2 linked regions of the Homo sapiens genome follow. The protein of the gene in region 1 purifies or fractionates together with the protein of each later gene. This does not show direct contact. Each region holds a gene or a part of one and is shown on either strand. Other genes may lie near its edges.

Region 1 (3,500 bases):
CTGACGTTCTAATTACTCTTGCGGATGTTATCAGACCACGCAGGAGATCATGCCGCTGCACATGCTCCACCCACCTCATGAGAATGAGAAAAGGAAGCACAAGTCAAGGTGATCCTTGGCACTTCCACAAAACGAAAACTAACACACCCTCCAGGTTCCTTTATGGGGTCAGCACCCAAGCAGCTGTACTTTACACCATCTGCACCTGCAGATGCACCTCCCATGTGGCAACGTAATTCAGGTTCACCACCCACAATGGTGTCTTCAAGAAAAGGGCCACGTTCTGTTTATCCTGAATTATGATTAAAAATACTAGGAAAGGGAGAATATATTTATACTCTGAAATATATCCAAGTACACATGTGCGATACATCTTACAAAAACTTAGCTTTCAAAAAAATTAATGCAGAAGTTTCTCATACTTAAAAGTATCAGCTTTCCAGAAGGATACACTCCCTGGAAATTCCGGAAAGCTGGTATTTTAAGTTCAACTTGAATCTGAAAATATGAGAGTTCACCTTTACATGTCTGTATTAGTACAAGGAACAGAGTTTCATGATCCTGCTCTGTAAATCACCAACACCAAAAGCACGGCTGTCTAATCAAGGGGAATATGTCGAAGTTTAAAGCTCTTAATGAAAAACAGTACATCATTGAACCATCTTACCTGTCGACGAATTACTCCAAGGTCTCTCTTGGCTTTATTCACTAGGGTTTGAATTTCTACAGGATCCTTTACATTTTTATTTTCTCTGAAGGCATCTCTTATCCTCCTGACAGCATATGTTCTAAATGAATTCAGAGGAAAAAAAAGAAAAGGTGTCAGCGTGTCTGAGGCTATGCTTTCAAATGAATTTTAAAGTTTTTCCTTTAGAATTAACTGTTTAATCTTCCCCTACGGATAATCCACTTTGATCTTTGCTCGTGGCGCAGGCTGATCCACTACCATTCTGGGATGACTAAGCAAACAGATTTAGGAAAATAAATCTACTCAACAAGTCACATACAAATGGCAAACTGCTACTGAAGTGTTCCTTAGATTATTGGTTCTTTAGCCTTATTCACATCTGGCTTCATTCCATTTACATGGATAATTGAACCTTTAGTGTACAGAGACAAATCAAGAACTCAGAGGTTAGCGGCAGTGAACCATGATGGTGCTACTGCACTTCAGCCTGGGCGACAATGCGAGACCCTGTCTTAAAAGAAAGGAAGAAAAAATTCAGAGGTTACATGACGATCGTATTTGCATGTACCCAGATAGTGACCTATGCTTTCCAGTCCTTGTCCCATATTCTGGCTCTCACTTCCCTTTCTGTTGTCCACATTAGGATCCCACCACAGTTGAACCTGTGGAATTAGGCCAACACGCTTTCTTTACCTCCATCTTGAAAGTGCACACGCCTACCACCCACCCCCAACCAGACAGCTCACTTGCAGTACAGGACAGCAGTTCCAGAGCAAGGCTTGCCCATCGGACAGGCTTGGGTTTGTAGCCTTGCTCCAGCTTCTACTGTTTGTGTGAACTTGGGCAAGCTTCTTAACACAAGGCCGTGTCTCCTCATCTGTCAAAAAGGCATAATACTGCTAAAGGCTGCTGGGAGGACTAGGCTTTATAATGTGTGTCTGGAATTTGGCCCAAAGCCTGTTACATAGAAAGACTCAATAAATGAAAGCTATTCTTCTTAACACTTGTTATGCCTTAATGCAATTACTGTTCCCTCTCCTCATGCCATAACCTTGCCTTCATCCTGCATCCTTACAGTCACACCATAGTGTGTGTACAGAAGGTAGAGTGGTGTGGATAATTAGCCACAACAGACAGCTCAGCAGTCCTTAGACACAGCCTCATACTCAGATGGCTATGGCCTATCTCTAGCTCTACCCCAACTACTCCAGATTGAAAGGCATAAGACTAAGGAGAAGCAGACTGAGCCAGGCATGTGAGACACCATTTTCTCTATGTTTTTTTTTTCTTTTTTAGAGATGGGGTGTCCCTCTGTTGCCCAGGCAGTGTCATGATCATAGCTCACTGCAATTGCAAACTCCTGGGCTCAAGTGATCCTCCTGCCTCAGCCTCCAAAGTGGCCAGGATTATAAGCACCCACCACCACGCCTGGCTAATTAAAAAAAATTTTGGGGGATGGGGACTTGCTGCGTTGCCCAGGCTGGTCTTAAACTCCTGGGCTCAAGCTATCCTCCTGCCTTAGCATCTCAAGGAGCTAGGATTACAAGCACACACCACAGTGCCTGGCTCTCTCGTCTTCTTAATGATCACAGACTGCTCTGCTTTTAACTTGGAGCACCGGTTAAAGAATCCATGTGATGCCAGTAGTAATATTTAGCAACAGAAGAATGGAAATACAGGCAAAGAAATGAGAGGAGGGGATATAAATTTCCTTGGGAGCAGCGCGGAGGGGGTGTTGGGAGCTCATATAACTTATTGGGAAACTTTATCTTAAAAAGGACAAATTGTTTCAGATAAAGTTTTTTAAAGTAAAAAGGCATTTTACATTAAAAAATTCAAATGTCAGGTCTATTTGCATTTAAAAGCAAGAGTAAAACTAAATCTTATGATACTAGGAATCATAAAGGAGAAGGGAAGAGTTTAGGAACCGGTACTTAGAATGTAAGACACTGCTGAGACTTTGATCTTAACCCTCTGTGAACCAGCTGGAGTATTTCAGAGGAGCTGCTGAGCGCTCAGTATCAATCCTAAAGGGCTACAGCGATTGGGCATGGAATCCATGTACTAGCAGCTGCTAAATAACTGGGGCTCATTCACTTCTAAAGGGATATGGGAGGATTTTACAAATGGAATACATCAGATACAGACTCTCCTCAGGTGCAGCTGCTAATCTAACAAGATTTTAGATAGCAGCTAGGTAAATTAACAGCAATTTCTGGCACTTTCTTGCATAGCCTAATGGCTATTTATAAAACACAGCATCACTGTTCTTCTTGACAACCACATACTCCTCCAAAGCAGTTTCTTTTTTGGCAATGATGGCAGCAAAGAGGGGACAAAATAATTTAATTCTAATATTTGTTCCACAGGCAAAATTGGTTTATAACATGAATTTACCTCCAGGAATCATCTATTGTTTAAATTTTTCATTTCGTATGCTGCATGGGCTTCTTGGAAAAACAAAATGGGCAACAGTAGCTATTGCTAAACTCATTTTTCTAAAAGCTAGTAACTAGCTTAGAATAGCTAGGAAAAAAGGAGTACTGTTTGGAATGTAAAGACCTAAGGTCTTCCAAAGTTTAAGGAAATGAGAAAATAGCTTAAAACACTCAACAATTTATATCAACTGAGCTCAAGGCCCAGGGTCAGGATATTCTGCTATGTATACTTGTTTGTCTCCCCAGCTCTCCAAAGTCCTTACCTAAAGAAAAGCAGCTCTAGATCTTGGAATTAAATGTGTCTAAAGCAATCAAGAGTCATGATTCAAATTTTCGATGCACTTTCGAGATGAATGCTGTAATGGTTCCCTCCT
Region 2 (3,500 bases), on another chromosome or scaffold:
TGATCATCCTGCCTTGGCCTTCCAAAGTGCTGGTATTAAACAGGCATAAGCCACCACACTAGGCCTTCTCTTCACAGTTTAAAACCCTCTCAACTATACTTTAGGTTTATTTTCTTACCAACACTGCTGGAAAAATTTGACAAGATATAACTTAAGTATTTCAGGTTAAACTGCTTTTAAATTACAGGTATGAATTTTATTAGCATCTTTTGACACTAATAGAAAGCATATGTCAAAACTTCAATTAACAGTTCATAGATTGTTCTGTGATGATCAAACAAAGCATATTTTTAAAAACAGAATCACTTGAAAGTGTACTGCCTAATAACAATCTCCTGTGCTTCTTTAGGAAGCACTGCGTTTCTTAAAATTCAGCACAGTGGTTAATTAAGAGTGTTGGAGCCAGAGTAGGGTCCCAAACCCAGTTCTGTCAACCTACTACTTAAAGAATTATTTCAGTGAAGTGACATTCCCTCTGAGCCTCGGTTTACTTCTCTGTAATATTGGAATAGTAATGTTGCCCCCATAGGGCTGTTACAAGGACTGAATAAGATAATACACCTGGGATGCCTGGCACCCTGCCTGGCACCGGGGAAGCCCTCAGTAAACAGGGATATTATTAATACTATTGTTATTTTTGAGAGACAAACGGCTGAATCAGGGGGGCAGTGAATAATCATCTGGTAGGTCAGATGATCAATGTGGCTAAAGAGGGATGAATGATTCAGACCTGTATTTCTCAAAGTGAGTTCTGTGACTGGGTGCTTGTTGATATTGCAGATTCTAGGGTGGGGGTCCAGGAACTTGCATTTTTAGCAACCCTGATGTGCATTAAAGTATGAGATCCATTACTCATCTAAGAGCTGGGTAAGCCCCAGTTCTGGGTCAGGAGTACTCTATTTTCCTCAGGTTCACACTTTCAGCCATGGAAATAGAAAAAATTATCTATGTATTCCCTCACCTTTTTCTTTTTATCTGCTCAGAAAGAGGCTGTGATTAGAGAGTGAACCTAGTAATTATATCATATTGCATATTTAAAAGGTAGTATAAAATATTTTCTAATATTTGCGAAGCTTAAGACAAAAAAAAAAGATCAATGATTACTAAAGGCTCTTCTGTAATGCATAGTATAAATATCTTGTTCCTCCGGGCAGAGATGAGATGCTGAGTGCCTAGAAGATATGGACACTTGAAGAATCTATGGACGAGCACTGTTATGTTTGCTTGGTAGGGTAAAATCGAAATTACTAAAGTATATAGATGAGACTGGCAGAGTATGCTGAAAAACAAGGGAGATTTTCTTAGACCAGGAAAAGCATTCCAGATCCAGAGAGAGCTCCCTTATTGGAACACAAACACAGAGACTCCTGGAGCGACCAGTTGGCTGATTTCGAGTGTACCATATTACTACCTGCTCTATCTTTTCAATGAAGAGCTTTTTGCTACCTAGCACGGGCAGTTTCTTCTTTCTGCAGCCCTGACAATGAACACCCACCACTCTGGGTCATTCATACTCCTCTACCTAAAGAAACAAATGGCCAGGTGTGGTGGCTCATGCCTGTGCACTTTGGGAGGCTGAAGTGGGAGGATCCTTTAAGCCCAGGAGTTTGAGACTAGCTTGGGCAACATAAGGAGACCCCGTCTCTACAAAAAATAAAAAATTAGCCAGGTATAATGGTGCATGCTTGTAGTCCCAGCTACTCGGGAGGCTGAGGTAGGAGGATTGCTCAGCCCAGGAATTTGAGGCTGCAGTGAGACATGATTATGCCACTGCACTCCAGACTTGGCAACAGAGCAAGATCCTGTCTCAAAAAAAAAAAAAAAAAAGGACTGGGCATGGTGGCTCATGCCTGTCATTCCAGCACTTTAGGAGGCCCAGGCGGGCAGACTGCTTGAGCTCACGAATTTGATACCGGCCTGGGCAATATAATGAAACCCCATCTCTATTAAAAATACAAAAATTAGCCAGGTTGTGGTGGTATATGCATGTAGTCCCAGCTACTCAGGAGGCTGAGGTGGGAGGATCTCTTGAGCCCGGGAGGTGGGGTTGCAGTGAGCCAAGATCGTGCCGCAGCACTCCAGCCTGGGTAACAGAGTGAGACCCTGTCTCAAAAATAATAATAATAATAATAATAATAATAAATAAAAAAATAAAAAGAAATAAAAAGAAAAGCTGCCCTTTTCTGAGGGACAGCTCAGATCTGTCAGAAAACAGCGATACCGTTGACCATCTAATTGTAGGTCTTTATGCTTAATGAGTATCTGAGGGTGGGAAAGTACATTTAATCAGAGCTGGGGCATAGACTTGGGTGACTACTTATTTGAAAATCTGAGTATTTATTTGAAAAGCCTTGAATACCCGGCATGATCATCTCAATTACTATGCATGCATTAGTGAGCAATGACATGAATGAGAAAAGTGAAACACATTTTCCTTGTGCCCTAAATTGTATTATCCTTTCTTTTCTTAATTGTTTGATATGTATACAGGAAAAGGAGGCTCCTATTGGTCACTCCTTTATGAAAAAATCCCCAGGGAGGCTGACCCAGCTGCAGTGGTCAGAAGGGATATTTTTTTACCTTTGCACTTTCTGGATACTCTTCCGGGGTTCGGTGCAGCAAGACGTGCCCTTTGTTGGGGATATTTAGATATATACAGTTTGCTGCTATGTCATCAGGCACAGTGAGTTTGTCGTAGCGGTGGTCACTCATCTGTTGCATGATCTATAAAGAGAAACAAAGCAGGCCTAAGAAGAGTAACTCCCCACACTTTCAAACAGAAGGAAGGCAGTGTGGTAGGATACAAGCTTGGAACTGACACTTTAGGCTGTTCCTCTGTTCAAATTCCCATCTATTACCTCCAGTCACTTAGAACCAGAAAAGGAAAACTTGATTAAGCTATGAGTCTTTGGAAGAATTGCAAGGGTTTTTGTTGCTCTTTAAAAGTATGTGTTTGTCTCTCTTTTCTTTTAAGGTTTTAAAACCGTCTATTATTTTTCTAGTCTTTGTTCGTAAGACTTATCAGTAAGATGCAAAATGGCCACATGTAAGGCCCAGCAGGGGTTTTGATATCTTTGGCTGAGTAAGCAGGGCTGCCTCCTCTATAGGAAAGAAGGGCCATACCAGTAATCAGAATAGTCAATAATGTGAATCTGATTAATCAGTAACACCACACGTGTGTGCATGCACGTGCGTGCGCGCGCGCGCGCACACACACACGCTTTGCTCTTCCACATACTTTTAAACTGAATTCACCTGTTCATTGGCAGGTGATGGCCTTAATACAATGAGCATAAAAGCCACCTGGGGAGAATAAGAAAATCATATTCCCAGGCCTCACCCTTAGGGAAAGCTGGTTTGGCAGATTTTGGGTGAGGCATAGGAATTTTGCATTTTGAAGCCCTACAGATAATTTTGAGGCAGAGGTTCCCTGGACCACAACTGGAGAGAAAAAAAAAAAAACCTACTTGGCAGGTCTGTTCTTCAAATGATGAACTTAT

What was found. Proteins that work in one complex are often made in the same cells at the same time.
Region 2: the proteins of LYRM4 (region 1) and DDAH1 purify together in Homo sapiens (affinity purification with mass spectrometry; one large-scale study listed by BioGRID and IntAct). This does not show direct contact.

The regions. Positions count from the first base shown.
Region 1 is NC_000006.12:5,215,951-5,219,450, forward strand, and holds part of LYRM4 (LYR motif-containing protein 4), read right to left. Parts: intron 789-3,500; coding exon 668-788; intron 1-667.
Region 2 is NC_000001.11:85,322,160-85,325,659, forward strand, and holds part of DDAH1 (N(G),N(G)-dimethylarginine dimethylaminohydrolase 1), read right to left. Parts: intron 2,725-3,500; coding exon 2,581-2,724; intron 1-2,580. UniProt on the Homo sapiens protein: Hydrolyzes N(G),N(G)-dimethyl-L-arginine (ADMA) and N(G)-monomethyl-L-arginine (MMA) which act as inhibitors of NOS. Has therefore a role in the regulation of nitric oxide generation.